Regions from separate parts of the Homo sapiens genome. Here region 2 is linked to region 1. Evidence: fine-mapped expression QTL. A gene starts in region 1. The other region holds a variant in brackets. All regions are shown on one strand. Distances are from middle to middle. Region 1 holds the start of FUNDC2 (FUN14 domain containing 2). Region 2 overlaps FUNDC2 (FUN14 domain containing 2).

What was found. PIP is the estimated chance that this variant, and not a neighbour inherited with it, causes the effect. A credible set is the group of variants that fine-mapping cannot tell apart.
Region 2: its variant is the best candidate, but not a certain one, in a credible set for the expression of FUNDC2 in prefrontal cortex (CommonMind, PIP 0.60).

What each region holds. Positions count from the first base shown.
Region 1 is chrX:155,022,767-155,039,573 of GRCh38, reverse strand. FUNDC2 (FUN14 domain containing 2) reads right to left here and starts at 12,730. Exons shown (of 5, transcript NM_023934.4): 1 at 12,503-12,730; 2 at 6,021-6,171. The coding sequence starts at 12,635. RefSeq lists an enhancer at 11,149-12,052 and silencers at 12,230-12,549, 12,820-12,909.
Region 2 is chrX:155,047,919-155,064,725 of GRCh38, reverse strand. It overlaps FUNDC2 (FUN14 domain containing 2), which reads right to left. Exons shown (of 5, transcript NM_023934.4): 4 at 12,925-13,056; 5 at 4,422-10,131. The coding sequence ends at 10,054. CMC4 (C-X9-C motif containing 4) reads left to right here. Exons shown (of 3, transcript NM_001018024.3): 2 at 693-760; 3 at 2,735-3,104. The coding sequence starts at 703. The coding sequence ends at 2,883. It overlaps MTCP1 (mature T cell proliferation 1), which reads left to right. Exons shown (of 5, transcript NM_001018025.4): 5 at 1-692. Among named protein-coding and RNA genes, the nearest start is that of CMC4, 15 kb to the left of the region's middle. RefSeq lists enhancers at 6,998-7,292, 6,957-7,458. The variant AT/T (reference allele first, on the strand shown) is at 8,202.

The DNA.
Region 1 (16,807 bases):
GCAAACTGTTTATCCACATGCAAAAGAGACCCTCATCTCAAACCATTGCAAAAATCAACTGGAAACAGATTAAATACTTAAATATAAGACCTGAAACTGTAAAACTGTTAGAAGAAAACAGGGAGAAAGCTCCATGACACTGGTCTGCACAAATATTTTTTGGATATGACCCGAAAAGCAGAGGCAACAAAAGGCAAAAATAGACAAATGGGATTACATCAAACTAAAAAGCTTCTGTACAGCAAAGGAATCAACAGAGTGAAGAGACAACCTAAAGAATGGGAGAAAATATTTGCAAAGCATATATCTGATAAGAGATTAATATAAAAGATATACAAGGGATTAAACAACTCAATTGTAAAAATACAACCTGATTTAAAAATGGGCAAAGGACCTGAATAGACATTTCTCAAAAGAAGACATACAAACATACAAATGGCCAATAAATAAGGTATATGAAAAAAATGCTCAACATCACTAATCATGAGGAAAATGCAAACCACAATGAGCTATCACCTCACACCTGTTAGGATGGCTATCATCAAAAAGACAAGAGATAACAAGTGTTGGTGAGGATGTAGAGAAAAGGAAATCTTTGTACACTGTTGGTAGGAATGTAAATTAGTAGAGCCATTATGGAAAACTGTATGGAGACTCCTCAATAAATTAAAAATAGTAGAACTAATAACATATGATTCAGCAATCACACTACTGGGTATACAGCCAAAGGATATGAAGTCAGTACATTAAAGAGGTATCTGCATTCCCGTGTTCACTGCAACTATTCACAATATCCAAGATAGAGACAACTTAAGTGTCCATCAACAGATGGATAATGAAAATGTGGTATATTACATAATGGAATACTGTTCAACCCTTAAAAAGGAAATCTTGATATTTGTGACAACATGGATTAACCTGTAGGACATTATGCTATGTAAAATAAGTCAGGCACAGAAAGACAAATACCAAATGGTCTCACTTATATGTGGAATCTAAAAAAAGTCAAATTCATAGAAACAGAGAATGGTGGTGACCAAAGGTTGTGGGGTGGGGCGGTTGGGGAAATGTTGGTCAAGGACACAAAAATTCCAGTTAGGAGGAAGAAGTTTAGGATATCTACTGTATATCATGGTGACTACAGTTAATAACAACATATTATATATTTGAAAATTGCTATAAGAGTAGGTTTTAAGTGTTCTCACCACAAAAACATGGTAAGTATGTGAGGTAATACATGTTAAATAGCTTGATTTAGCCATTCCAGAATGTATACATATATCAAAACATCATGTACGCCACAAATAAATACAATTTTGGTGTTGCTGTTTTGTTTCCTTTTTGAGACTGGGTCTCATTCTGTCACCCATGCTGGATGGAGTACAGTGGCATGATCTTGGCTCACTACAACCTCCCCCTCCCAGGTTCAAGCCATCCTCCCACCTCAGCCTCCCAAGTAGCTGGGACTACAGGCGCATACCACCACGCCCGGCTAATTTTTCTATTTTTTGTAGAGATGGGGTTTCGCCATGCTGCCCAGGCTGGTCTCAAACTCCTGAGCTCAAATGATCCACCTGCCTCGGCCTCCCAAAGTGCTGGTATTAAAGGTGTGAGCCACTGCACCCAGCCTACAATTTTTACTAGTCAATTAAAAGAATTTTAAAAATAAACTTAAATGTAAATAGTCTAACCACCCTAATTTAAAGGAAGAGACTGTCAAATTGGATTCTAAAAAATTAACAACCACCTATATGGAACCTACAAGAAACCTACTTTACATGTAAAGACTCAGCTGGGTGTGGTGGCTCACGCCTATAATCCCAGCACTTTGGAAGGCTGAGGCAGGCAGATCATTTGAGGTCAGGAGTTTGAGACCAGCCTGGACAATATGGTGAAACCCTGACTCTACTAAAAATACAAAAATTAGCCCGGTGTGATGGTTCACGCCTGTAGTCCTAGCTACTTGGGAGGCTGAGGCGAGAGAATTGCTTGAACCTGGGAGGCAGAGGTTGCAATAAGCCAAGATCACACCACTGCACTCTAGCCTGGGTGAGAGAGCGAGACTATGTCTCAAAAAAAATAAATAAATATAAATATAAAGACTCCACAATACCCTATTCCATGTGCCTCTTCCCTTGGCTGAGTTAATCTGTATCATTTTCTGTTAAAAAAATAAAAAATAAAAAAATAACCCTGAGTGGAACAGCTCTGAGTTCTGTGAATTCTCCTAGAGAACTATCAAACATGACAGTGGTCTTGGGGACCCCTGAACTCTGCAACTAGTAAGTGGCTTTTAGCAAGACTACAATATACAAGATCAATATACAAAGAAAACTATTGCATTTCTATATACTATACAAGCAATGAACAATGGCAACTTGAAATTTTGAAAGTAATACCATTTATAATGGTATCAAAAATATGAAATACTTAGGAATAAATCTGATATAAGATGTGTAAGATCTACAAAGCATTGCTGAGAGAAATTAAAGAAAACCTAAACAAATTGGAGAGATACACCAATGTTTATGGATCAATGCAATCCCAGTCAAAATCTCATCGGGTGTCTGGCAGAAACTGGCAGCAACCTAATTCTAAAATTCATATGGAGGAGTGTATAAAAACAAGATAAAATTCAGATGGAAATGCTAAATACCTAGAATACTCAAAATAGCTTTGATGAAAAACAAAATTTCAAGACTTGCATTACCTAAGTTACAGTAATCAAAACAGCATGATAATGGCACCTAGATCAATTTGGCAGTACAAAGAGCTCAAAAACATATAGTCAACTGATTTTCAACATAGGTGTAAAGACAATTCAGTGGAGAAAAAGACAGTCTTTTTTTTACAAATGTGGGGACAACTAGATACCCATACGCAAAAAAAACTTGGATTCCTACCTTATACTATATACAAAAAGTAAATCAAAATGGATCACAGAACTAAATATAAAATCCGAACCTATATACAATCTAGAAAAAGCGAGAGAAAATCTTGGTGACCCTGGATTAGGCAAATATTCTCAGACATGACACCAAAAGCTGGAGCTACAAAAGAGCTGCACTTCAAGATTAAGAACTTCTGCTCTTTGAAAGGTACAGTTCAGATAATGAAAAGCTACAGAGAAGTAATATATTTGCAAATCACATATCTAAGACTTCTATCCAGAATATTTAAAGAACTCTCACGATTCAGCAGTGAAAGAAAACCAACAACCCAATAAAAATATGTGGAAAAAGATTTGAACAAATAAGTCATCAAAGATATATGAATGGCAAAAAATAAGCCCGTGAAAATGCTCAACATCATTAGTCATTAGAGAAACGCAAATTCAAACCACAATGAGATACAACTTCATACCCACTAAGATGTTCGTAATCAAAAAGATAATACCAAGTGTTAGTAAGGATGCAGAGGAACTGGAACCCTCACACATTGCTGGTGGAGATGTAAGATGGTACAGGCACTTTAAAAACTGGCAGGTACTTGTAAATTTAGAACATTCACTTACTACGTGACTCAGCCATACTATTCCTAGATATTTACCCAAAAGAAATGAAAGCATATGTTCATACAAAGACTTGTACACTTGTATACAAACTTGAAGTTTTATCTGTAACAGCTAAAAAGTGAAAAAAAAACTCAAATGTCCATCAAAGGTGGATGGAGAAACAGATTGTGGTACATCCATACAATGGAGTACTACTTAGCAATAAAAAGGAATGAACTGTTGATAAACAGAAAAGCACAGATTATCTCAAAATTATTATGGTGAAGGCTGATGCAGGAGAACTGCTTGAACCCAGGAGGCGGTGAGCCAAGATCGTGCCACTGCACTCCAGTCTGGGCAACAGAGCAAGACTCCGTCTCAAAACAAAAAAATATATTATTATGGTGAATAAGAGAAGCCAGACAAAAAAGAATATATACTATGTAATTCCACTTCTAAAAAGAATCTAGAAAACATAATCTATAGTAATAGAAAGCAGATCAGTGGCGGGAGGATGGCATGAAGGAAAGAGCGTGGAATTACAAAGAGGTACAAAGCAGCTTTTGAAGTGATAGGTATGTTCATTATCTTGACTGTGGTGATGGTTTTATGGGCATGTACATATGTAAAAATGTATCAAATTTTATACTTTAAATATGTGCAACTTATAATATACCTATTTATTAAATTTAAAAACTAAGAGATAAAGAAAATAGCCAAGATGTTCCTAAAGAACAAGATAGCAGACACACACATATGCATGCGCACACACACTCACATAAAGCAGCGGGGAAAGGGATAGCTTTCACAATAAATTAAGTTGGGACAAATGGGTATTCCACATGGGGAAGAAAAGAAGGAATCTACCACATACTGAGCACAATAACAATTCCAGGTGGATAATAAATCTAAATGTGAAAGGTCAAATAATAAAAGTTCTGAAACATGGGGTAGGCAAAGATTACTTAAATAAGCCACAAAAATCACTAACCATTAAGGTTAAGATTGATAAAATTGACTATATTAAAAATAAGATCTTCAGTTCATCAAAAGATACCATAAAACGAAAAGATAACCACAGAATGAGTGAAAATATCTATAATACACACAACTAACAAAGGACTGAGAATATTCAGAATATATAAAGAACTCTTACAGCTTAACAAGGGAAAGAATGACAACTTCAGAGGAAAAAAACTAGAGTGGAACTGAAAGAGGAGATCCAAATGGTCAACAAACATACGTAAAAGTCGATCAATGTCACTCCTACTCAGGGAAATGTAAATGAAGCCACCATGAAATACTACTACCTAACTACCAGACTGGTAAAATTTTTATAGTCTGGATTTAACTTGATTACCTCGCTAAGGAAAAATTAACTAATTTTTTAAAAATTTAATAGCCTGGCAAAATCAAGTGCCACCATGTAGAACAACAGGTTCATTTGGTCCTTGCTGGGACTGTAAACTGTTAAAAACAGTTTTGGAAGGTGGTTTGACATTATTTAGTGAAGCTGAAGATACCTATACCCATTACCTAGCAATTTCTAGGTACAGACCCTACAGAAATGTATGCACATATACACTGGGAAATCTAATACTCATATAAGCATAGTATTAGCCAAAAATGGAAACAACTCCAATATCAGTCATCAACTGGATATACTGTGGTATATTCACATAATGGAACTCAAAATACAAGTGAAAGTGAAGAAACTACAACTATACACAATGTAGTTGAATATATGAAACATCAGGTTGAGCGAAAAAAGCAAGACTCAAAAGAATACATACTGATTGCATTTACTTTAAGGTGGAAAGCAGGTAAACCACAGTATGTTATTTAGTGACATAACTGGTGTTAAAACTACAAAGAAAAGCAATGAAATAACTGCTTAATAACCTCTCGAGTTTCTAGGGCGCTAGCCACGTTTTTTTTAACCTTAGCAGTTGTTACATAGGTGTTCACTCCAAGTATTTGCTAAAATGTACACCTGTTAAATGTGCTGTTCTATATTTGCTATATGGTGCTATAAAATTTTTCAAATGTAAAGAGTCTATGAGATTAATGGATTCAATATTCACCTATGAAATTTGCTATTACTTTTTGAATTTATTACAAATGAAACCATAAGCTGTGTCACATTAAGTTATCATCTGACATAGCTAATAAGTAGTTAGCTCCTTATTCTACCAGTTACCAGCTATGTGGCCTTGGGCAAACTAACCTTTCTGAGCCTCAGTTTCTATAAAATGAGGATAGAAAATAACAGTACTAATTCCAGAGTTGTGAGAAGGAAATGAGATATCTATGTAAATACTTCAAACAGAACCTGGCATATAGGAAACAATCATTATGTGTAACCATTAAATGGTACTTTAAGATGATGTTTAGATACATGCTCCACATTAAGTGACCAATTTCACAGAAGCCAATGTGTTTTCACTGGTTAAAGGAGATGATGGTACCTATAACTGCAATACTAAATCATGCACAAAAGACAGTGGACATCTTTCACATCACTTACCATCCAGTGACACCTCCAATGAACAGCTGGGTTGCCACGCTATACTTTTCTGCTGAAGGTCCAGATTCCTGCCCGAACAGCTTACGCCACCATGGCTGCTTCTTAGCAAATTCCGCAAGGTCCAGTGACTCAAAATTTCCCTCAAAGTTTCCTACAAGAAGTAATACGTTAAATAAGAAAATATTTACTTTTATACCTAACTAGATTGAGATATTTAAAGAAACAGACATAAATGTAATAAGAAACCTCCAAATATTCTATTTTAAATAGTAAATTTATTCTAAGTTGCAATTTTGGAAAATCAGACTAAAATCAGCAAATACTAATGTCTATATTACAGGGAAAAACCTAGAAAATCTCAAATTAGTCCTCTAGTTTGTCCTCTCAAATTTAAAAATAACAAAAAAGGCTGGGCGCGGTGGCTCACGCCTGTAATCCCAGCACTTTGGGAGGCCGAGGTGGGCGAATCACCTGAGGTCAGGAGATCGAAACCAGTCTGGCCAAAATGGCAAAACCCCATCTCTACTACAAATACAAAAATTAGCCAGGCGTGGTGGCAGGCACCTGTAATCCCAGCTACTCAGGAGGCTAAGGCAAAAGAATTGCTTGAACCCAGGAAGCAAAGGTTGCAGTGAGCCGAGATAGTGCCGCTGCACTCCAGCCTGGGCAACAGAGCAAGACTCCATCTCAAATAAATAAATAAATCCAAAAAGACCTATAAAAAACTGCCAGTAATGCATCCCAAATGAAACAAATTTGCCCCTTCTCTTCAGAAGTAGCTCAATGCTATTCAGTAATCCACAAATTTTCTAAGTACTACGTGGATCTCCAGTGATAATGAAGATGAGAGGGTAATGTTTAATTGAGCTCTTACTATTTACCAGGCAATGTGCTAAACATTAATCATGTACATCTAATTAATCCACAGAATAAGGTAGGTACTACTTATTAACTCAATTTTATAATTAAGAAATGAAGGCCAGGCATGGTGGCTCACACCTGTAATCCCAGCACTTTGGGAGGCCGGAGGCAGGTGGATCACCTGAGGTCGGGAGTTCAAGACCAACCTGACCAGCATGGAAAAACCCCATCTCTACTAAAAATACAAAATTAGCCGGGGGTGGTGGCACATGCCTGTAATCCTAGCTACTCGGGAGGAGAATCACTTGAACCTGAGGGGCAGAGGTTGCGGTGAGCCAAGATCGCACCACTGCACTCTAGCCTGCGCAACAAGAATGAGACTCCATCTCAAAAAAAAAAAAAAAAAAAAAAAGAAGGCACCAGGCGTGGTGGCTCACGCCTGTAATCCCAACACCTTGGGAGGCCAAGGTGGGCAGATCACCTGAGGTCAGGAGTTTGAGGCCAGCCTGGCCAACATGGTGAAACCTCGTCTCTACTAAAACTACAAAAATTAGCTGGGCATGGTGGCATGCGCCTGTAATCACAGCTACTTGGGAGGCTGAGGCAGGAGAATCACTGGAACCGGGGAGGTGGAGGTGGCAGTGAGCCGAGATCGCGCCACTTCACTCCAGCCTGGGCAACAAGAGTGAAACTCCGTCTCAGAAAAAAAAAAAAAATGAAATGAAGGTTCCAAAGTTAAATGATTTGCCCAAGCATGGAGAAAGACTTAACAAAATGTCAATCCCTTTCTCTGTGGGAAGATAATGTCAGGCTCCCCTACTATACCCAGCCCTGTTTCCCTGGAAACACACCGCACTAAGAAATGTCTGATATGAAATGTCAGCAATGTACTATTCAAAGCTGTTTACTGTAAAATTGACCTCAAATGATCAACTTCATCTGGCATGGAGTGTGTACAATCTTTTCACACATAATGTAACAAACAATAGAAAATGACTACTACCCATGCAAAGGCAAAGCCATATAAAGGAAACAAAATTTGTTTAAATAAAAGAAATAGAAGCAGGCCAGGCACGGTGGCTCACGCCTGTATCCCAGCACTTTGGAAAGCCTGGGGGACGGATCACTTGAAGTCTGGAGTTCAAGACCAGCCTGGCCAACATGGTGAAACCCTGTTTCTACTAAAAATACAAAAATTAGCTGGGCGTGGTGGCATGTGCCTGTAGTCCCAGCTACTCGGGAGGCTGGGACAGGAAAATCACTTGAACGCGGGTAGCGAAGGTTGCAGTGAGCCAAGGATCGCACCACTGCACTCCAGCATGGGTGACACAGCGAGACTCAGTCCCAAAAAGAAAAAAGAAAAAGAAACAGAAACAGAAACAGAACCAGTGATGATCAAGATGCTGAAGTAAGCAAATAACAATGATCAAAAACTGCTCAAAAGATTAAACATATATGTAATTGGAGTTCCAGAAGATTAGAAAGAATGGGATAGAAGTAATATTCAAAGAGGTACACAAAAGTTATTCAGGCCGACAAGAAATGATGCCACATGGAAATATGGAAATGCAGAAAGGAATGAGACACTGGAATGGGCAAATAGGTGGATAAATCTAAATGAATACTTACTGTAAAAAAATAATAATTACAGAAATTTTATACTTTAAAATCAAAGAAAAAAATCAGAATAAAAAGTAGAAAATAGGGGCTGGGCGTGGTGGCTCATGCCTATAATCCAAGCACTTTGGGAGGCCGAGGCGGGTGGATCACCTGAGGTCAGGAGTTCGAGACCAGCCTGGCCAACATGGTAAAACCCCGTCTCTACTAAAAATACCAAAAATTAGCCGGGCATAGTGGCAGGCGCCTGTAATCCCAGCTACTCAGGAGGCTGAGATGGGAGAATTGCTTGAACCTGGGAGGCGGAGGTTGCAGTGAGCCGAGATCAGACCACTGCCCATTTTCCTGGGCAACAAGAGCGAAACTCCATCTCAAAAAAAAAAAAAAAAAAAGTAGAAAATAGGAATAGAAAGGGATTTCTTCAATCTGATATAGGACATCTATGAAAAATATACAACTAACATCATACTTAATGGTGAAATATGGAACACTTTTCTTTCCCTAAAATCTATTCAACTGTTTTTTGTTTTGTTTTGAGACAGGGTCTCACTCTATCACCCACATTGGAGTGCAGTGGCACTATCACAGATTACTGCAACTTCAAACTTCTGGGCTCAAGCAATCCTCCCACCTCAGCCTCCCCAGTAGCTGGACTACAGCTGTGCACCACTATGACCAACTGATTTTTTTTTTTTTTTTTTTTTTTTTGTAGACAGGAGGTCTCACTTTGTTGCCTAGGCTGGTCTGGAACTCCTGGCCCCAAGTGATCCTCCCTCCTTAGCCTCCCAAAGTGCTGGGATTACAAGTGTGAGCCACCTCGCCCAGCACTGTACTGGAGTTCCTAGCCAGTGCAACAAAAGAAAAGAAATAAAAGTCAAAGAGATTAGAAAGGAGGTACAACAATAATTCTGTCTTCATTGGCAGATAATATAACGGTGTATATAGAAAACCCAGAAAAATCTACAAAAAGGTACCAGAAGCAAGGTCACACATTATAAGACCAATATTAAAAAGTCATTTGAATTTTTGTGTATTAGAAATGATGAATTGGAAAACAAAATAATTTTAATTGCAAAAATTATGTTGTAGTAAATTCAATGAAAGATGCACAAGACCTGTTCACTGTAAACTAGAAAACACTGCAAACTACAAAACACTGCCAAGAAATTGAAGATGACCTAAAATAACAGTGATATACTGTTTATGTTTTGCAAGACTCAATATTTTTAAGATGTTCATTCTCTCCATATATTGATCTATATATTCAATACAATCTCAATTAAAAAGTAGGTTTTTTCTTTTTTCTTTTTTTTTTTTTTTTTGAGATAGAGTTTTGCTCTTTTTGCCCAGGCTGGAGTGCAATGACAATCTCGGCTCACCACAACCTCCTCCTCCCAGGTTCAAGTGATTCTCCTGCCTCAGCCTCCCAAGTAGCTGGGATTACAGGCATGCACCACCACGCCTGGCTAATTTTTTGTATTTTTAGTAGAGACAGGGTTTCTCCATGTTGGTCAGGCTGATCTCAAACTCCCGACCTCAGGTGATCCGCCTGCCTCAGCCTCCCAAAGTGCTGGGATTACAGGAGTGAGCCACCACGCCCGGCAAAAAAGTAGGTTTTTATGTAATTGACAAACTGGTTCTAAAATTCATATGAAGATACAAAAAAACCCAGCAGTGTTCCAGTTACTTCGGCTGTACTACAAATTACTCCAAAACTTCATGAAGCAAAACAATCATATATTATGCTCTCAGATTTTGTGGATCAGGAATTCAGCCACAGCACTGTGGTTTGTCTTTGTTTCATGTCTGAGGCTTTAGCCAGAAGACTTACAGGCTGGGTCTGAAGACTCTACACTCACACAGATAGATAGGCTGCTACTCTATGTGAGTCAGTCTAGGCTTCCTTACAGCATAGGAGCTGAGTTCAGGAGGTGAAAGTCCCAAGAAAGGGAGAGAGCAAATGCAGTGTTAACTTCCACTGCATTCTGTAGGAACAGGCAGTCAGTCACAAACTCCCATCCAGATTCATGAAGAGGGAATATAGATCCCACCCCTGGGTGGGAGGAGTGTCAAAGTCACTAGGAAAAAGACCATAAGGAATGGAAAATATTGCTGCAATCAGGAAAATACAAACTGCCACAATAATCCTGGGGGCGGAGGCGGGCAAGGGAAAGAGGAGGGTTCAAGGAATTTCAAGGCTCATTATAAAGCTACAGTATAATATACAACTATCTTAATTTCAAGGCTTATAAAGCAATGACATTCAACACTGTCAAACTGACCCAAGGATACCCAAATATAGCAATGGAAGAGAATCCAGAATCCAGAAATAGATCCACACATATAGTCATTTGATTTTTAATAACTTAGCACCAAGGTAACTCAATGAAGGAAACAACAAATGATGTTAGAACTACTATATATTTGTGTTTCAAAAAAAACTACTCTCAACCTCTACCTTAAACCATACACAAAATATAATTCAAGAATTCATTCAGGATACATCACAGACGCCCATTTAGCAGAACAAAATATGGATGTCTGAGTACCTGGGTACTCCATGGCCTCTCAAGTAGTTAAATAATTTATTTTTCTAATGTAACAACAAAACATTACAGTTTTAACGTAATTTGACCAAGCCCCTTAGATCAACAGGTGGCTCCACTGGGGCTGCAGTGAGCTATGATTGTGCCACTGTGCTGTAGCCTGAATGACAGATCTAGTCCCTAAAAAAGGGAGTAGGGGGGAAGGTAGATTAAATGCGAGATATTTGGTCAGTCATTGGTCAAACACTGCTAAGCACTATGACAGACAAAAGTCAGCCAATAGCTTCGTTTATGAGCCCACAAAATCAATGATCACAGTTATTATGTGATCATCACTGTGATAACAATTGAAACTCATCTTAACCTCAAAATTTCTCACAACAATTTCCTAGGTGCAAATACCTGATCAACCTATAAGAGCAGTCTGCTCTTATAAAAGTCTATAAGAGCAGTCTGCTCTTATAAAAGTCTATAAGAGCAGTCTGCTCTGCAGGAAAATACATAATTATCACATTGCACATTCCACCTTCCCAGAGTCATCTAAAATTTAGCGGCGTGCTGGTGAAATGCTTAACAGTCGGCTTTAGGCAAGGGCTGATTTGTAGTGTAGCCAATTTCCATTGCGTATTCATTCATCGTGAGCATGACATTACTGAATTGTGAAACTACTGAACCCAGAGATGGGAAGAGACGCACAGTAGAGCACCATAGTATAGTATCTCCTCCACAAAGATACAATAGATGTATAAATAACCTCAAAAGTAAAGTAACAATAAAACATGGTAAATAATAAAAGTGATGAGTTTTTAGTATTTTCACTGCCTTTGTTTTTAACATAATTTACGTAATTTTACGTTTATATGATTGAGTTTTCAATGATGGCTCTGTTTAGCAATGGGATCCCGTGAGTCAGTACTAAATTAAATACAACCTAAACATTCAAAATAGGGTAAGACGCATAACTTAAAGACGTGCTCCACTGCGAATTACACGGAATCTTTGACTATGCCGACTAAACAGAAGGCTATTCCTAAGTACCATCCCATATGTGCTAGTTTTTCAAAACCAACAATAAAGCAGTTGGGGAGGTGCCTTGTACACAGAATGACGCCACGAGGCATTTGAGATGAACGTCCAAAGGGACAAAGAAGCCAGACCGCTTCCGAGAACGGGGACAGAATGTCTTCGGGCTTCTGCGCCGGGGGCGGCGCCGGAAGGCTGGGTGAGCTCCACTGGAGACGACACCCCAGGGTGGTTAGGCCCCAGACACGCGCGTGACCTTGGCCGGACCCTGGGAGCGGCTGAGCCAGGGGCGATCCCCGAGCGCCCTCCCCGTCCCCGCGCCGCTTGGACTCCCCGGGGAGCTCGGTCGCGACTGGCGGGCGCGGAGCCCTTCCCCTTCCGGAGCCCAGGAAGGCGGCTCCCCGCGGCGCCGGCCGCGCGCGCGCCCGCCCTTACCTTGACTGGACGCGGCCATTTCGGTGAGCTTGTCTCGCGAGGACACACGTAGAGGATCTGCGCGGTAGGCCGCGGAGTGGCGCGCAGTTGTCGCCACCACTTGGCTTCCGGCACGTGGGGCAGATGTTTCCATTCCCACGGCGGCAGCGGAAGAGGGAGGGCCGGGCGCGCCGCGGCTGCTTGCAGTCTCCGCAAGCGGCTACATCACAGAGCTCAGCGTGCGGTGTCACAGGCCCCGCGGTCCCGCCCAACAGATGCACCGAGATGCGCGTGCGCAGAAAGCGTCCCGGGGGTGAGGCTCCCTCCCTCGCTCTCCCTCTACTCCCGCCCCACTCTCCCCCACTTTCCCCCCTCCACCCACCGCGGCCGTCGGGGCTCGCTCGCTCAGTACCTGGAGGCGAGTTCCTGACGCGACTGCGACTCAATCCTCGCCTGGTGAAGAATATTTTACCTATGACTCACTGAAAATAAAGACGGCTGAGTGACCGTGTTTGTTCATGTAAACATTGAACAAATATTTATCGGCTTCTGCGATGTGTCCTACTCTTTTAGTGGAGGAAGACACATTTTATTTATGTATTTAATTTTTCTTTTGAATTTTACATGCGAGTTATACTTAATAAAACTCACTTCAAAATATACCTTCAACAGAAAATCCAGCAACAGTTTCTATTATGTTAGTTAAAACAGCCAGTCTTTTCCTTTACTTTTAAAAATTATTCATAAATGTAATTAGTGAATGATAATAAACATTGACATCTGATCCACTGCTTTAGGAGTGACACAAATGAAGTTAACTCAGGCTATTTTCTTTATAATCATTGTGCTATTGTTTTCTTTTTCTTTTCAATTATACTGCTTAATATAGGATTTTGTGGCACCATAGGAGTTGAGTAAAAATAAAAGGAATAAAAATATACCTTATCTGGCCGGGCGCGGTGGCTCACGCCTGTAATTTCAGCAGTTTCGGAGGCCGAGGCGGGCGGATCACGCGGTCAGGAGATCGAGGCCATCCTGGCTAACATGGTGAAACCCCGTCTCTACTAAAAATACAAAAAATTAGCCGGGCATGGTGGCGGCCGCCTGTAGTCCCAGCTACTCGGGAGGCTGAGGCAGGAGAATGGCGTGAACCCGGGAGGCGGAGCTTGCAGTGAGCCGAGATCGCGACACTGCACTCCAGCCTGGGCGACAGAGTGAGACTGCGTCTCCAAAAAAAAAAGAAAAAATACGTTATCTATGAAGATTTCCAATTTGATTTCTATTTATCACAAATGGCCACAGTACTCCTTTGTACTTTACCACATACCATATTGTATTCAGTAATTATTTGTGAATATGTAATTGATAATATTGTAGGTTTTAGAGAATCCTTGAAAACATGAAAATTTGGTAATGGGGTCTATTTTGATTATTTATTTATTTATTTATTTATTTTATTTTTGAGACAGAGTCTCGCTCTTGTTGCCCAGGCTGGAGTGCAGTGGCGCGATCTCGGCTCACTGCAAGCTCCACCTCCCGGGTTCAAGCGATTCTCCTGCCTCAGCCTCCCAAGTAGCTGGGACTACAGGCACGTGCCACCATGCCCGGCTAATTTTTTGTATTTTTAGTAGAGGAGGAGTTTCATCTTGTTAGCTAGGATGGTCTAGATCTCCTGACCTCGTGATCTGCCCGCCTCAGCCTCCCAAAGTGCTGGGATTACAGGTGTGAGCCACCGTGCCCGGCCATATTTTGATTTAAAATTTAGCAATAATAGATAAAATTTTCAATCAACTAAGCCCTTGGGCCAGGGAATGCTATTCCTTAAAAAGTGCTTCTATCAATATAGCCTCTGACTCATTACTTTGTTAATTTTTAAATTGTATTTCATTCCTGATTAACATTCCCACCCAGATTATTAATTATACAATCTGTTAACTGTAGAACCTCAAACATGTTGGATTGTACTGTATTTGTCTGGAAGACACATTTTTAAAACATTGTAATCGCTATAAGAGAAGCACTGGGAAAGAAAGGAGCTTCTATGCCTGCAGTGCCTGAGGAGCCCTTTAACAGTGTGCCCCGCCCCTAAGCTACTCATGCAGTCATCCCCATCCCAGTTAGTCAACTTTATTCCAAAAAACTTGGTGTTCCAAATTTTTCCTTCTCAAAGCCCACAGATCCAAAATTCATCAGCAGTTCCCACAAACGTTACCCTCACAATGAATCCAGCCATTTTTCACCCTCTCCAGTGGTACCATCATAGCCCAAGCCGCCACCATTTCTCACCCCCGGTTAACAGGCCACCCTCCTTCTACCCTTATCCTGCTAGAGTTTGTTTTATCTACAGTGATCAGAAAGATCAGCCTAAAAGATAATTCTGATCACCACCCTCCTCTACTCACAACCCGGCCGTGTCTCCCCATTGCCCTCAGTGTAGAAGTCAATGTCCCTTTGCTGAAATGCAACCTTAGTGAAACTTTCCATGACTAACCTCCTTTAAAATTGCAACCTGGTCCACCCTTACTCCCCCTTACCCCACTTCTCTTTTTTGCACAGCACTTATTTTACCTTCTAACATACTGTATAATGTACTCATGTATTGTAATTATTGCTTATCATCCCTCTTTCAGTTGCTTATATTTTTCATCAATGTGTACCCAGTGCCTAGGACAATATCTGTCTAGGACAAATGGGTAGTTATGTGGCTGTAGGCAAGCCATTTAACCTCTCTGTACCTCAGTTACTTTATCTGTATCCACTTTGCGGTGTTGTCATGAGGATTAAATCAGATAGCCTATGTGTAGCACCTGGCAGTGAATTTATCACCCTGTACTGTAACTGTCTACTTTTCTGTCTCCTCCATTGGACTGTCATTCCCAGGGGGTTGGGAACTGGGATTTCTTCATTTCTGAGGCATAGAAGTATAGCATAGTGGTTAGGAGCATGACTTCTGGAGCCAGAGTACATGGGTTTGAATGCTACCACTCACAAGCTGTGTGGCCATGGAGAAGTTGCCTAACCTCTCCGTGCTTCAGTTTCATCACCCATAAAATGAAGGTAAGAATAGTACCTGTATTTAAAAGCACCTAGAACAGTTCCTGGCATATAGTGTCAGCTGTCATCTCTGCATCCTTGTACCTGTCAGAGAGGAGTGTTTATCAAAGGGGCTTCTTGCTGCCTGTTTCCAAACCAGTCGACAATATACCAATTGCTCCCTAACACATTCTTGTTTGTGCAGAACTGAGCTCAATGATAACATTTTTATAGCAACCCTGATCAAGTTTCTTCTCATAATCTCTTACACTTTGAGGCCCCTGCAGGGGCCCTCACTCTCCCTAATAAACATTAACCTGAGTAGGGTGTTTGAGCTCACCATGGCTACATTCTGATGTAAAGAGATATATCCTATACCTGGGCCAAATGTAAACAGCCTGGAAAAGTGTTAGGTTAAAAACAAAACAAAATAAATAAATGAATAAATGCCAGGTGGTTATGAGTGCTATTGAGAAAAATGAAGCCAAGAGGGATATCAGTGATGCAGGTGGGGGTAAAGAGCTTACAACATAAATGTGGTGTTCCATATTTAAACCTCATTCAACAGGGAAGATTGGAGCTGAAATGTGAAGGAGTTGTGGGAGTGGAACTACGTGGAAATCTGGGGGAAAGGTGTTTTGGGTAAAAGAAATAGCAAGTGTTGAGGTCCAGGGGCATGAGTGTGCTTGATATTTTAGGGAAGAGTAAGGAGACCAGTATAACCAGAGTGAGATGAGACTACAGAGGTCAGGAGAAAGGGCATGCAGACCATGTGGGATGCTCTAGGACCTAGGCCATGGTAAAGATGTAGGGTTTTACCCTGATGGAGGTCAGAAGCCATTGGAGGATTCTGAGAAGAGGAGTGACAGGACTCGCTTTATAGTTTTAAATTATAACTATAAATTATAGTTTTTAAAACAATAGTTGCCTAACCTCATGTTATATGTAAAACTACAGTTTTAAAAACTATAAATTCCTCATACTGGCAGCAGTGTGAGGGGCAAGGGCAAAAGCAGAGAGACTAACAGGTTGCTGGTTACTCTTGCTAGTGCAAGTGAATTCTAGAATCTTCGACAACATCCAGAACTTCTCTTGCTGCTGCCACTCAGGAAGAGGGTTGGAGTAGGCTAGGAATAGGAGCACAAATTAAAGCTCCTGTTCACTTTGACTTCTCCATCCCTCTCCTCCTTTCCTTAAAGGTTCTGATTAAAGCAGACTTATGCCCCTACTGCTCTCAGAAGTGAATGGGTTAAGTTTAGCAGCCTCCCTTTTGCTACTTCAGTTCTTCCTGTG
Region 2 (16,807 bases), 25 kb before region 1:
CAGATATTTTAAATAAGCTGGTTTCTATAAGAACTTCAAGAAAAACCATTTTAGCTGCTTAACTGGCACCTTTCTCAGGAAGTAATAACACCAAATATTGCTGATTCCTAGGAAAACATTTACTACTTGTAAAGAATTTCCTGAGTTAAAGTAGTTATAACAGTTTATATACATTAAAAGTAAGGTTTTACTTTAAAAAAAAAAGTCTTGGGAATAATAGCTACCATGTATTGGAGTCCTTTCCAGGCACTATTGTATGTACTTTATATACTTTATCACATTTAATCCTCCTGTCAATGCTTTGAGGTAGGTATGATTCCCATTTTATATATGAGTAATAAAAAAAGCTCAAGGAGTTTAATCATTTATCAAGGGTTTCTTCTGCGAATGATAGAGCCAGGCTGCGCCGTCGGCTCCTCTAGCCTAACGTTGGTTTACAGTATTCAAAAAGAGTTGATTGAATTCAAGGTTTTTTTTCCATGTAAAGCTATTTATATCTTCCAAGCCTAATGAAATGGATATTATAAAAATACAGTTGATTCATCCTATGTTTGGGAAGAGTATTTTTAGTGTAATTATTTTCCAGCAATTGTAAGGGCATATACTGCTTGTCTCAGAAGAAAATTCCACGTAGAGGGGCTTTAAAGTCTTTATGGAAAAAAGAAAAATAAAAATCATTTTTCTTGTTTTAGTTTTCTGGATATGCCGCAGAAGGATCCGTGCCAGAAGCAAGCCTGTGAGATACAGAAATGTTTACAAGGTAGTATATTGTAAAATGCTTTAAAAATATTTTTCCACTGTGAACTAACTATAAGAGACCAATTATTCTTTTATCTGTATTAACTCTTTTTTAAGAATGTAACGTATATGTAATTATCCTGAAGATTCTCTTCATTGTATCATCAAAGATGCAGAAAATAAAAAGTAATGTGATCAAAGCTAGGGGTTTTCACTCCAGGTGATTAGCATCACCTGGAGATCTTTAAACACTTACCTAGAACAATTCAGACTTCCTAGGGCTAGGGCTAGGAAAAAAAGGGTTTTTTGTTGTTGTTGTTTGTTTTTACTAAAAGGCTAGTTTTAAATTGGTTGGTTATACTTCACTGCAGCTGACAATTCACTTTTTAAAAGCAATCTGGAAGAGGTGCGGTTGAAATAACAATTGGAATTCAGGCTGCCAAAGTCATCAACTAACTCTTAAAGGCAGAAGTGAATCTCGACTAAAGCATATTTGAGGTGATTTGTCCATTTGTCCAGCTGCTAAGTTTGACCAAATGTTAGAGGATTTTAGTTTTCTAATCAGTGAATGACTGTTGCCAGAAGAGCAAATAGAAAAAGCTATAAGGCTATCTGAATTTGAAAAAATTTTAATAAGTTTTCCTCACTAGTAAAGTAATAGATGGAGATGGAAGGTCATGAAAATATAGAAAGGTATGAAGGAAAAATGTTCAGAGTTCCCCCAAAGATTCACCACCAAAGAAATCCTTTGTTTGTGTATCTCCTTGGACTTTTAGCTTTCATTCTTGGACTTTTCATTTTTTGATGTTAGCAATATTTTATAAAATCTTTTAGATTAAAATCTGGATGTATAATAATGCCATTTTAGTCAAACTTCTTCCCTCCAACTTTAAGGAAAAGGAAAAAGTTTTTTGCATTTAATTCCTTCTCCCAAATAAAACCTTACCTTGTTTGAAATAACCCATAGCTAAGGGAAAAAAATAAGTTAAAAAGAGCTGGTGACACCCCCTTGGCAGTGTGGGAGGATTAAGAACTGGAAAGACTAAAAGATGACAAGCACCGTTATAAGGACTTTATACGTATTAAGCCTTTCATCCATGAGGTAGATGCTACTATGACCCCCATTTCATAAAGGGGAAAACAGACACACAAGTTATGTAATTTGACTAGGGTCACATAGCTAGTAAGAGGTATGGTGGGAATTTGAACACCCCCCGCCAACCCCGCCCTTGGTCTAGCTCCAAATCTGGACTGTTACCCACCTTGCTATACTGCCTTTCTAATCAGAATTGTCTTTCCTATCCTGAGCTAACTACCATGTACTCCATTTTAGTACTGGGGGACTCATTAACTGCAGCTGACCTAGAGTCTTTAGGTCAGGTCCTCCTTAACTTAGTGTTTATGTATAGTAGGGATCTGCAAATGTTTTATGAAAAAGGCCAAACAAGTAATATTTTAGGCTTTGGAGGCCAAAGGCCTTTGTTGTATATATTGTGTATGTGTTGTGTGTTTACAACCCTTTAAAAATTAAAATCCATTTTTAGCTCCCAGCTGTAAAAACCGGCTGAATTTGACCCTAAGGCTGCAGTTTGCCAATTCCTGATGCACAGCCTTAGTAGGGGAGGTCCAACAATCAGCTTAAACTGTATGCAAAATAATGTGTGGTGTATGTGCATTTTCCTAATTCATCAAATTAGTGACCAGTAATAAAAATGATGTTAAAAACCAATGTCCTAGAAAAAGGTGCATACATGCTATTAACCTTAAAGGAAATTATATATTAAAATAGCTTTCAACCACTTTGTAAATCATACTTTCCCTAACGAACCTGTCGACAGGTCTCTAAATTAGAAAGAATTCAGTGGACTTTGGTATATCTTCTTTCTTCCAGTTCCATAGGTACTGAAAGTGAAAAGGGGTGGGAAGCACTGATCTAAACCTCCCTGTACCTTAGTCCTATGAGATCATGACTAGAGTCTGCCTGTATGTTTTTCAGCCAACAGCTACATGGAATCAAAGTGTCAGGCTGTCATCCAAGAACTGCGTAAGTGTTGTGCTCAGTATCCCAAGGGAAGATCTGTCGTCTGTTCAGGATTTGAAAAAGAAGAGGAAGAAAACCTAACACGGAAGTCTGCATCAAAGTAAAGTTCTTCTGAAGTGCTGCTCCATGTTTCCACCAAATGAATTTTTTTTATCCTCCTGACTCTTCAGGCCAGGTAGCAGCAAATAGCAAATGAAAAAGTCAGCTACAAAAGTTAATGAATATGCCATCTATGCAGAACAGGCAGAAATATAAACACATTAAAAGACAAATATGTAGAATGTAATATACTGAGCTGCTAAAATAAACCTGTTTAAGAGAAAAATTTGGGTTTTGTACTAAATGTATTTTAAGACTATTAGATATAGGGTATTAATGAATTCTCTTGAAGTTCAAGCCACTAGTGCCATTCATCAAATTTAAGTCATATGAGGTATGTTAGGTGAAAGGACTCACTTCCAGCATCACAATTTTGACGCCCTTTTTTTTTTTTTTTTTTTTTTTTTTGAGATGGAGTCTCACTCTGTCATCCAGGCTACAGTGCAATGGTGCGATCTCGGCCCACCGCAACCTCTGCCTGCCGGGTTCAAGCAATTCTGCCTCAGCCTCCCAAGTAGCTGGGATTATAGGCATGCACCACCACGCCTGGCTAATTTTTGTGTTCTTAGTAGACGGGGTTTCACCATGTTGGTCAGGCTGGTCTTGAACTCCTGACCTCGTGATCTGCCCGCCTCGGCCTCCCAAAGTGCTGGGATTACAGGCGTGAGCCAATTTTGATACCTTTTATAGATTACATGCTAAACTAATTCAAAGTTTCCTTTAAACTAACTCATTACCTTTTGTACTTCCAAAAATGCAGAGCAAAAAGTGTCTTTCCAGATGCCAGTAAGAGCATTTCTTTCTGCTTTTGCATCCCCACTGCAGCGACTAACCAGGTAGGAAAGGCATAGAAATGATTCTTGTAATGCTTAATGATCCTTAATTTATCATGAAGGAACTGAAGAAAAAATTTTCATTGGAAGTCAGGTAGGCAGCAAGATAATTCAAACTTAGTTGGTTTATCTATTCTTTATATCCTGATAATAAAAACCTGTTACAGAGGATCCAGACAACATTAATACAAAGCTGCTGAATGAAGCCTGTTGACAGCTGTCAGTCACTTTATGAAGTAGGAGGAGGCAGCATGCAACAGGCCATTTGCTTTCCTCAAATGGATGCTTGAACCACCAAAGGCTGTCCTCTAAAAAAGAAAAAGATGACTAAAAGCAGGAACAATTTCTGCTAGGTCCCTGATGTTAAAATACCATGATTATTTGAGACCAACTGTTTTCTTTAAAGCAGCATTACTCAAAGTGTTTCTAGGAATTGCTGTAACCGGAAGAAAAAAAAAAGGCTTCTCTGGTCAGGTAAGTTTGGGGAATGCTAGGTTGCATACAAGTACACAGGTTAATTTCCTGTCAGACTTCAGAGCTTTCAAAAAACCTAAGTGAACCTGTTTTGCAGACAGCATCTCTGTGTGTGAATGCTCTCCAGAGCGACTTAAAGAAATGCTGCCTTAGAGACGTTTGGTCCACAAACCAGAGTGACAGAGCTAAATCCCCATGAAATTTAAATGACGTCTTGTGTTAATAATAACACAATAAAACATCATACAACTTTAATGTTACACCATCTACAAATCTAAATTACATTTAAAATTATCAGTTGACAGTTGTACTAGGATTTACATTAGGAATCACTACATGATCAAATAGATTGTTTTTCTGTGTTTTATTGCCAAGTTATTTTTACTGAGTTAACTACTCCAGTTTCAGACTCTTTTAAATGTTTTTATGCTAAAGTATATGTATTAGTCCATTGTTGCATTGCTATAAAAAGTGCCTGAGACTCGGTAATTTATAAATAAAAGAGGTTTAGTTGGCTCACAGTTCCATGGGCTGTACAGGAAGCATGGCACTGGTATCTGATGGGCTTCTGGGGACGCCTCAGGAAACTTACAGCCATGGCAGAAAGCAAAAGGGGAGTGAGCACTCCACATGGCCAAAGCAGGAGCAAGAGAGAGTGAGGGGTGAAGTGCCAGATCTCATGAGAACTCACTATCATGAGTGAAGTACCAAGAGGGGATGGCCCCCACGATCCAATCACCTCTCACCAGGATCCACCTCCATTAGGGAATACGGTTCAACATGACATTCGGTGGCTCCAAACTGTATCAGTATACGACTTTCTTTCAGTTTTGAAAGGTTCAAATCAGTTCCTTCTTTTAAAGGATTGTGTCAGTTTAAGTCAACAAATCCATTTGAAGACATTAATTTAACTCTTCTTATTCTTAGGTATTATTATGACATACAAAAAAATAAAATAGCCATCATAGAAGGCTTAACATTTACTGAGTGCTTCTTATTGTTAGGGACCAAGAGTAACACTGAATCTCAGTCTTAAGCAAAGAACTCTAGGAAGGTGAAAACTATGATCTCCCATTTTAGAAACCAAAAAAAAAAAAAAACTTTGTTAAGTTGGCTATTAGTGATGCTAAGTTTAATCACTTGGTTAGTGACTGACAGACCTTTTAGCTAGAAAGGTAGTTTTCCCTTCGTAATGGGTAAGTCATTTGTGGGGTGATATCTTGTCACTCCTTTCCTTGCATTCACTCCACACGATTCCTAAGACATTTAATGAACTATAATATTACACTTGTGTTCAGTATTCAGAAGGCATCTGAAGTTGTATGGCACTTAATATAAAAGGCTTTAAAGCCCTCTTAAGGAGTTAACAGCAAAACTCTTAATTTTTTCAGCACCAGCTTCCAACTGTGTACTTCAGTGGTTCTCAGTCTCTGCTGCTCATTAGAAAAAGCTAAGACACTTTAAAACCTCAGGATGCCTGAACAGCACTCCAGACCAGTGAAATCAGAATCTCTAGGATGAGAGCCAGGCATTAGTAGTTTTTAAAATTTCACAGGTGATTCCCAAGTGCAAGCAAGGATGAAAGCCACTGCTCTCAGGAATGTCATTTCTTACCATTTTAAAATTTAAAAAGGTAGACACTTTTGAAAAGTCAGTAAACTGACTTTAAAGCTTTATAAAAATGTGAAAAAGTGCGACACTTTTCTTTTAAAAAAAAAAGTATTAAGATTCATGACCCCTTAAAAAGAATGCAAGCATCGGAAATATAAGCTATACCATATGACTTCTAGAAAAATCAGGCTCAGAACTAAAATAGGTTTTCTGCCCAATTACTCAGATGTTAGTGTGACCTCTTAGAAAATTGGGCAGAAAATGTATTTTAGTTCTGGGCCTGATTTCTGAGAAATCATACTAGATTTCATGACAAAGAAATGAAGCTGATAATTTGGTAGAGGGAGTAGAGGGCAGCAGCCACATTTTTCTCTGGGGTCCAAAACTGGCTGTGAGCTTCCCTCTGAGAAGAAATTGAGATCATCATGAAACATTGATGATACTCAGAAATTTCAAATCCATCAGTATACCATCTTTTCAAGCAGAGATTCCCAAACTGTACAAAAGTAGAGGTTCCAAATAAGAGCCCAACCATTAGTTATGCCCATCTTTCTGACAACCGTGAAACAAAAGAATGATGGAGAGACTATTCTTACCACAATAGTTGTTAACTACACAGTAACTTTGCTTTCCAAAACCAGAAGCACCCACCCCAAGAGCATGTTGGCTAGAATTATGCAAGAGATCATTCCTTGTAGAATCTAGTCCGCCAACTTGAATCGTCTTCTGCCAGCATCCATGAGACAGTAACTGCCCAGATCCAGTAGCAAGGACTGTCACCCCAGTGGTAGGGGAGTCAAGAACCCCACTGTCCTGTTAATGAATGTCTGGAGGCTGAGTGGCGGGAGATTGCAACAAACAAGCGGCCATTTGGGAGGAGAGTCATGCTAACATATTATCACAATGGCAATAACACTCATGACAATGGGCTGCTCAGGCAAGGGTCCCCACCACCACATCTCTCCCCGCACCCAGCTCCCGTGTCAGCAATGAGGATACACATTCTTGGGGGAGACTGAAACATTGGACTCCATCTGTTGAGCCCGAGCAGGCAGCGGCCAGAAAGTGCCCCTGGATCCGTCTCTGCTCTCCGACTCTGGGGAGAACCTTGGGAAGAAGAGACTCAAAAGTTCTACCTCTCCTGTAGCATGCTCCAAGTCCCCATCCCACCAGGTCCCATTGCGGGAGAGACGCTGGGTCAAAGGGTGGCTCAAAGTGGTGAGGACGCAGGGCCGACCCATAGTAGCCAGGAAGGGGACAGAAGGGGTCCCTGAGCCGGGACACTGTCCAGCACGCTGCAGGACAAGGGAAGGGAAGCCTTCACTACGTAGATGCCATCCTATTGGTTGACAAGTTGGAAGCCTTGAGTGCGGTGTTACCACGTCGCCGCCACAAGGGGGCGATGAAACCCCGAACACATTCCAAGTCAAGTTTCTGCGGACCATATACAGCGACAACGCTCTTCCCAAGGAAAAACTTCCGCCCCACCACCACTAATTAGGAAGTCCAGAGCGTCATTGGACTCTGCTACTGGAGAAAATACGTGCCTAGCTAAGCAGGCCTCTCCAGTCAAATGAAAGTAGTGCACTGAAAGGTGGAGCTGCCTGGTCCTTGAATCATCTCGGTTTTGCATGGAGGAGTGGCAGCTGTTCTTTTGGGGGAAACCTTAACTCCCACTTCACCACCTGAAACAAAACTGCTGGCACAATAGGGCCTTGATTCACAGGTAACCCCAAATGCCTGAGCCTCCTTCACCGATGGTTCAGCTAAACTGAAAACAAGGTGTGCAGCTGTGCGTGTTCAACCTCCATGCCAGCTCTGCACAATCCCAAGTGGTCACAGTGGCCTCACACCGTGGGCAGAACTCACAGCCGTTCTCATACTAGCAGGATGAGGCCAACCTGCAATACTGACCTCAACCATGACCCTCACAGTCGTAGAGGCAGCCAGCTGGGAAAAAACTTCAGGAGGGACCTACCTACAGATCTTAATTCAGACAATCAGAATACAGTCTGAGGCCAGACTATTTATTACAACCTACTCAAGGTAGTTTACAACCACCTGCTAATCTTTGCTGCCCTCACCAATAATCACAGGAAAAACAGATGCACCAAAAGACAACCCCTACCCCACTGGAGAGGCATTGGGTGGCCAGTCTCCCCACATGCAACCCAAAGGGGCACAGAGCACTTTGGTTAGCTTTGCTGTTACCATCCCATTGCTGTGGGTAAGTCACACAGGTAAAGTGGCTGCAGCCACTATCACCATATATGGCATAACCCAGAGACCCAGATGTCAGGAGAGGCAGAGTGTGGGGAAGCAGGAAACAGATGACTCAGTGTCACTACATATGTCTATATCAATATATATAGAGATATAAATATATAGCAAGCAAAAAAAAAAAA[AT/T]AGAGGAGGATCTATAAGGTTAAGAGACTTATCCAAATCATGCAAATACGATGTGAACCTTGCATGAATTTTGATTCAAACAAACTAAATATAAAACACTTGAGGAAATTTTGAACACTGATCAGATTTTGGATATTATGTAATTACTGTTAATGTCTGATATGATGAGGTATTTATGATTTTTAGAAATAATTCTTACCTTTTAGAGATACATACTGAAATATGATAAAATGACATTTTGATATTTGTTTCACAATAACTGGTAAAAACCAGCAGAGCTATAATTTGATGATTGTTGTGAGTGAGTGATAGATACACAGGGGGATTATTGTACTATATTCTCTACTTTTATATATTCCTGAAAGCGTCCATAATAAAAAGTGAAAAAAAATAAGTTCTTATAGCAAAATATGCAGCAAAGAGGCTCATACCATTATGGTTTTGAGATGATTCATACATATTGCAAGCAAAATGGCTTATGTTTCCTTAAATGTAAGGAGAAAAACGCAAATAGGTGGTTTCTGTAAAGTTCCACACATCCACTGGTAGTTTTGATTTTCAAATTCAATACATCATTCTCAAGACGGGTTAAAATGCAAACATTTTTAAATGTATGGCCTTAGAAACACACTCATATTTCACAAGAGATCATCTCCAAGATTAACAATTCTGAGTAAAACTAACCTTTAATAGTGAGTTTTCTTTCTATAAAGTCATTATTCAAATACTCAGCACCTATTAAGTGCTAGGCCCTGTGAGTATAATGGTGAAGACAGAAGTCTTGCCCTCTGAAAGCTGACTGATATTCTAGTAGGGACTGTAGACATGGTAACATGCCACTACAGCAAAATGTGGTAAGATTCTGTGTGTGCGTGTGTGCCCGTGTGTGTGTGTGTGTGTAAGCTTTTAAAGAATAATTCTCAGGGTTGTGGTCATCATGAGACGGTAGATTACACTTGATGGAAATTTATTTCTCATGTCCTATCACTATCTTTCTTAATTCTGAATCCCTGGAAAGCTACTTCTTTAAAATTCCGGTTTAAATGTTGTATTTCATACTAACTAGATTAAAAAAAAAAATAGTAGAAGTGGCACAGAGGAGTTATGGCCACCCCTAATGTTTTGATAAGGATATTTCATTCACATTTCAAAGCTTAAAACCTTTTCTACAAAATAAAAATCCAAAATCTTCCCTTTCCCACCTAAATCACTTGTTTTACAATAAATAAACCCTTTGGAAACAGCCATGAGATACATTATCCTGTACGGTAGAAAGCATTCCTGGACAATATCAGATTTTTCAATTACAGTAATTATGCTGCCAATTTTGTCGGCATAATTATAACACATTTAAATAGCTTTCTGTAATGTAAAACCAACTAAAAAAGAAAGTAGACACCAAGATACCAAAATCTTTCATGCTTAAAGGCAAATGTATTCAGTTCCTTTCCATGCAGCACACAATAAGGTTATCTATGTGCTTATTTCTTTTCCAAATCAACAGTTTGGGACAACCTTTCAGGATCCACTCATCCTCCACGGTCAGCCATCTTGTAATGTGTTCTCATAAGTGTCTTGCATGGGGGTAAAGGAACCTTCTTGTTGGCCTACAGACTGGCCAAGTAGGGGGTGTACTGGGAGGAGAGCTAAGGACTATTGTCTCTTCTGCCACCATGAAGCTCATGGTGCCACATTGACTTGTACCAGCAGATGCTTAGAGAAGCCACTCAGATTTGCCATGGCAGGGAAGAAGGCATGGGAGAAGAGGAGGAGGGACTCGATGTCCTATGATGGAGTGTAGAGGCTGCTGGCTGGAAAAAACCAGGAACAATGAACATGAGGTCATCTTCCTTAGGATGCCATGCCAAGCAGAAAGCCTCCGAAAAATCCCCCAGTTACTAGAACATTCTTCTTCACAAATGACACCACCTGAAAACAGAAGATAGTACAATGGGTTGTTTTGCTAAGGATGTTAATAATATTAAGAATCATCTCTATTATACCTATGCCAGTCTTAACAATGTCAATCCCCTCATCGGTTACGTAATTTGCACTTTACCCAAAGGGCAATGGACTTACACTAATAGTCTATTTAATAATAATTAAATAGACTTACATATGAAAATGACTACTGGCTGGTGTGGGGAGAATAAGACTAGAGGGAGCCTGATGGGAAGGAGGATGCACATCAGGAGGTAGAGACAATGGCTCTTTGAATCAAGGACAAAGAAGGAGAGTTCATGGGGACAGTTATGGCGAAAGAGTAAAGCTGCACTAAATAAACTGGTTACAGAGGCAATTCTGTTTCCAATTTTGCTCCTTCCATCCTCTTTGGCATCTACCCTCCAATAGAGGCTTCTCATTTCCTGAAGTCTCTCCCCTAAATCTCTCCATCCATGCATTCCCCCCTGAAACCTGCTCCCAGGTAGATGCTATAAATTCTCATTCTCACACTTCACCACATCTAAGATGATTAACAGGTGACGTTCTTATTTCCTTAAGTTCCCAAAGCTTCCCACCTCCCCTCTACCCTCCTGGAATAGCTCCCGGTCATCTGAGACTCAGTGCATACATTCAGACACTCTTTATGGCTCCTTAGTCTGTGCTCTACCAATCTCCTGACCACTCCCCACCCTTCCAATTTCAGAGACAATTTTGATAAGTGGCTCAGACTTCCTCTTTCTCCTAAGTGTGATCACCACCTTAGAAAGTGTTCATATGAACAAGACATCCAACATCCTGGCCTGATCATTTCTTGAACTCAAGTACGGTGACTTCCATCCCCAAACCACCTAAGCTACTCACACCCTGACATTCCCCTAACATTTTTCACACTACCAACCCCATCCTCCTAGGACCACTGTCTTCTAACCCTCCAGTAAGCCCTTACTCCAACGATGCCTATGTCTTCCTGCCTCATTTCCACTCCTCCTCCATCTCTCCTGGACCTCTACATTTCCTTAAATGAAGCACTTTTGTCATCTGCCATTGGGGTGAAGAAAAAAAATCATACAACTTCCTGAGAAAATTGGTTTCGTTTATTATTTTTACTACTCTTTCTTCAACTTGCTAATTTGGCTTTCAACTCCACCACCCCACCAAACTGTTCTCACTGAAGTCATCTTGTTGGTAAATACTGAACTAAATCTTCATCCTGTTTCTCAAATCAGACCACCGGCTCTATGAGTAGGAAAACCAGCCACTACATCCCCAGGGCCTGTGACAGTGAACTCAATTCCAAATTATCTGGTTACTTTATAACAAACTCCCTCTGTGAGTCAACAGTTGGTTCTAATCAAATATTAACTTTATGCTTTTTATTATATACACTTCCAGTATTATTTTTAAAGTTTTCAGCAAGGTGCCATGGCTCACACCTGTAATGCCAGCACTTTGGGAGGCCGAGGTGGGAATACTGCTTGAGCCCAGAAGTTTGAGACCAGCCAGGACAACACAGGGAGACCCTGTCTCTCCAAAAAATTTAAAACTTCACCGGGTGTGGTGGTACACACCTATAGACCCAGCTACTCAGAAGGCTGAGGTCAGAGGATCGCTTGGTTGAGGCAACAGTGAGCCATGACTGTGCCACTGCACTCCAGCCTGGGCAACAGAGTGAGACCTCTCTTACAAAATTTTTTTTTACTCACTGTGGTGAGTCACTGTGCCCAGCCATGCATTATTTTTATAAACATTTGAATAATAAAGTTTTCATGAAATAAAAAATGTAACTTTCCTAACTTTGAGGAGAGACAGAAGGAAGAAAGGAAAGAGAAACTATCTGGGCTCTGGGCTCCTGTAGATACCCATCTCTGCCACCTTCCCACTCTGGGTAAAGGCACCAGCTTTGACCAGCCACTTGCCAATCACCAGCACGAAGAGCCACTCACAACATGAGAAGCCTGAGGCGCACACAGGGTATTTCTCCTCCCCTGCACTCAATCTGTCTGTTTTCCCTGTGAGGCTAGAGTGAGCTAATGGGAGAATCTCTCATCACTCCAGGCTACAGAAAGTACCAGCTATCTTCTTGACACCCTGATCCTTGTTTATTTCTCCCCAGTTCAGTGTACTTATTTATTTGCAACATCTGACATATTTCTAAAGGTAATAAAGCAGCAGCAAAAAATATCCTTTTAAAAAGGAAGGACTTCTCCTGTCCCTGCAGTGCCAGGTCATAATCTAACTTGGCTTTAATGAACAAGATCAGGGGTTAGCAAACTACAGCCCATGGGCCAAATCCAATCTGAACCTGTTTTTAAATAAAGTTTTATTGCAACACAGCCACATCCACTTATTTAACATATCATCTATGGCTATTTTGATGATATACAGTGGAGTTGAATACTTGTGACATTTCCACTAGTTATATGCAGAACAAGCAGAGTATGAATGTTTCAGAGATATGCGTGTATAGCGACAAAATGGGACTCAAAATAATTATACTGGCCATATATCCTTCCCACCTACTATGCTGCCCCACATTCCTACAAGAACTGGTTAAAGGGATAATCACTCCACAAATGTGCACAGACAAAGGTCACCAAACAATTATCCAGCTTTTAAAAATGTTCTGAAGTGATGATAATCCAAGTTAGTTTTGTCTCATTACTCTAAGTTCTTTGTAATGCTTAAGCCCTGTCCATCACTGAGATATGGTACAATAGGGTTAAGCCCTGTTTTTGTCTGCACTGTTCACACACTACACGTGAACAATGCAAGTCTCACCTCCTCAGCTTTGCTCCTGACCTCAGTAGGTATCTGATTGCTCTTACGGATCTTCAGCTGCTCTTTGGCTTTCTTCATGTCCTTCTCCACTCGTTGCCAGTCAACTTTGATGTACCCAGTATGGTTTGCAAGCTACAGTATCAACAATAATGACAACAAGAAATGAGAAACAGATTTGTTATTTCTTTTAGTCAGGATAAATCCTGAAGTAGACTCTCGAAACCCTCTGACTTTCCATTTTTGGAGACATCTGCCATTTGATTCTTTGTATCATGATGACATCTACTCAGCATCCCCCCTATATGCGAAGCCATATGCCTGGCACTAGAAATAACTACTGGCAATTCTTTTAAATTATTTATACTCTTACAACCCTTTTACAAAGAGTTACATAAGATGAAAATCAAGGTGGGGGGTCAAGATGTAGGGTGAAGAGATGGACCTTACAGCCAATACAAATGTTTCCAGAGAATGACTCTGACAATGTGCCCATGAGTGTCAGTTTCCTGACAATGTGAACAGAGCAAAGCATTCAGGCAGTTATTACTGTTGCTTAACAGGAAGAAATCTAGCATCTGGCCCCACAGAGATTTCTCATGAGCAAGTTCATATAAACGGATATTAAGAGAACCACATCCAAAGACACCTACAGCATATACCTATTTCCCTTGATAAAAACAGCAGGCACAAACACTAAAACTCAGTGTAAATCTGATTCAAGCATGTAGATTTTGATGATGGATTAATATCATCCTAGGAATGAAGAGAATGACTGTAGCCAATCAATCAATGCCCTATCAATATCACTTCTCTCTACCAAATTTTTGGCAATCTCAAAATATCTGAAACTAAAAGTCTTCACCTTGCTAGAGTCTCCTCCTGCATTGTTGCTCTTCCTCTAGGCCCTATTTTAGCTAATGGCACCACCAGTCACCCAAACAGACTAGAGAAAATACTTGTGATGTGTATCATAAACAAAACATTGATACTCAAAAAAGTGAACTTCTTATAGAGATCAGTAAGAAAGTTCACTTTAAAAATGGGTAAGGGCAATTCAGAGGAAAGTGTCCACAAAAAGGAAAAAGTTCAACTTCACAAGTAATCAAGCCATAGTACCTTTATTTATGAGTCTATAACTGGAAATACACAAAAGTCTATCAACACATGAATGGATAAACAAATTGTATCATATTTACACAATAGAATATTACTTAGTACTAAAAAGAACAAATTACTTACAGCAACCACATAGTTGAGTATCAACATTTGTATCTAAAAGAAGGCTCTGGTTCATTTACTCCACCCTGTTTATCCCACAAAATCCTGCTATTAAACTGAGAGAATACATGGACTAGCTATTTGAAGGCTCTTACATAAAAACAGCGACGTGCAGATTGGAGAAGACCAGAATTCAAAGCACCACCAAACTGGTGGCGTGTTTCCTGCTTTTCCTGCAGTATCGCCTGGCCTAACCTCAAGGCAGGACTCAAGAAACATCTGACAAAATTCAACGCAAATTCATGATAAAACTCTCAGAGAAAGAGCAATAGAGGGGAACTTCCTCAACTTGATAAAGAACATCTACATAAAAAACCCTGCAGCTAACACTGTACAGAATGGTGAAAGAACGAATGCAGGGAACAAGGCAAAGCTGTCCGCCGTCTCCACTCCTATTAAATATCGTACCAGAAGTGAATTCAGAGTCAGCACAACAAGGCAAGAAAAAGAATTAGGAGGCATCCTGATTCACAAGGAAGAGGTCAAACTGTCTCCAATCATAGACATCTTTGTCTACATAGAAAATTTCATAGACTTCAACAAAAAACAAAAACTCCTAGACTAAAAAAGTGAGTTTAGCAGGGTCACAGGACACAAATTCACACAAAACCAACTGAATTTCTATATGCTAGCAATTTGAACTGGAAATGAAAAATGTTTAAATGATTTACAACAATGGGTGCAAAAAATAATTAAATATTAGGTACAAATCAAATAAAACATACAGGATCTGTATACTGAGAACTACAAAATGCTGAAGAAAGAACTCAAAGACAACCTAAATAAATGGAGAGACACATCATGTACATGGAATGGAATACTCAACACAGAAATGATGCCCAGTTCTCTCCAAATTATCCATAGATTTACTGCAATCCCAAATCACAAATCCCAGTAGGATTTCTTATAGATACATAAATAAGCCGGTTCTAAGATTTATATGGAAAGGCAAAGGAACTGGAATCACCAAAATGAATCTGAAAAAGAACAGAGTTGGGGAAATCACACTACCTGATTTAAGATTTACTATAATGCTACAGTAGTCAAGACAGTGTGTCATACTGAAGAAGAGATAGACACACAGACCAACAGAACAGAATAAAAAGTACAGAAACGGACGTGGACAACTACAACAAACTGATTTTTCACAAGGGGGCAAAAGTAGTAATGGTGGTGGTGAAGTCCCCTGGGTGGCCCAGGCCAGGATTGCGAGGTGACTTCCTGCTCTCCTTGGCATTACTGGGGGACTGCACTGCAGGGGCAAAGCAACACCAGAACTGGGAAAAGCAGCCTCTCCCGCTGCAAGGTCCCTCCAGCGCCCTCTACTGACAAAGCTCAACATCCTACTTCCATTGCAGCACAACAAGTAGAGGGAGCCGAATAAACTGAAAACTGGCAAGCGTTGCTGCTGGGCTCTGAAAGCTGCAAAAAGTGCTGGAAATGATCTACAGCTTGGTAAGAAAAAGCAACTACATTCATAAAGACGTGAAGGAAAAATTTCACTGTTCACAGATGGCATAAAAAGATTTTATAGACAAAACCCAAAAGAATCCCAGACAAGACTTTTTTAACAAGGTGGCTGGCTGAAAGAGCAACATAAAATATCAACTGTATTTCAACACACTAGCATGAATCAGAATGTGTAGTTTTAAAAATCGTATCATCCACAAGAGCAACTAAAGTTATAAGGTATCCAGGAATAAAACTGAATCACAGATGTACAAGATCTATACGGAAAAATAATAAAAAGTCTATTCAAAGGCATTAAAGAAGACCTAAATAATTGGAGAGAAAGCCCGTGTTCACAGATAGAATACTCAATATCATAAGAGATATCTACATGGTTCCAATGCAATTCCGATAAAAATTTCAACAGGATTTTTGAAAATAACTGACAAGTCTGATCTAAAATTTAGATGAATGAGCAGAAACACAAAAGTAGCTGCAACACTCCTGAAGAATAAGGTGGAGGAATTTGCATTACCAAATATTAAGCTTTAGTACTGTCATAAAGATCGAAAGTTGACCAGTGGAACAGAACACAGAAACCAGAGTCACAGCCACACATACATGGGTTCTGATATATGAAAGAGACAATGCTGCAAATGTTGGGAAAGGGAAGAATTATTCACTAAATTCTGCTCAATTATCAGTATGGAAAAAAGGAAACTGGATCCCTATGTCAAACTATAACTTGTGATATAACTGATCTCCCAACATTATGCTTGCCTCCTGCTCTCACTCCCCTGGTGACAGATAACATGAGTGCCTGCCACAGATTCTCCATGTCTCACCTCTGCAGCAAAGCAGTGTCCCTGTACCCCTTGAATATTGGAATTATCCAACCCCAAAATCTCATTTTGAGGTGCCTTTCTGGAGACATTTTCAATACCAATTATTTCTGTCAGGGCCCCAAAACGAAACAGAGGACACACTCAAATTAAGACATTTCAAAGCAATATTAAAATGTTTATGAAGTTTGGGGCAGCATATAAGGGAAACCACAGGGATAGAGATGTTACTGCACTTCCACCTGAAGGGTCAAGGGGAAGGAGAGAGAGGTGTGAGGAGGGGCCCCACCTTGCAGGGAGTCTGACCTGTCTAG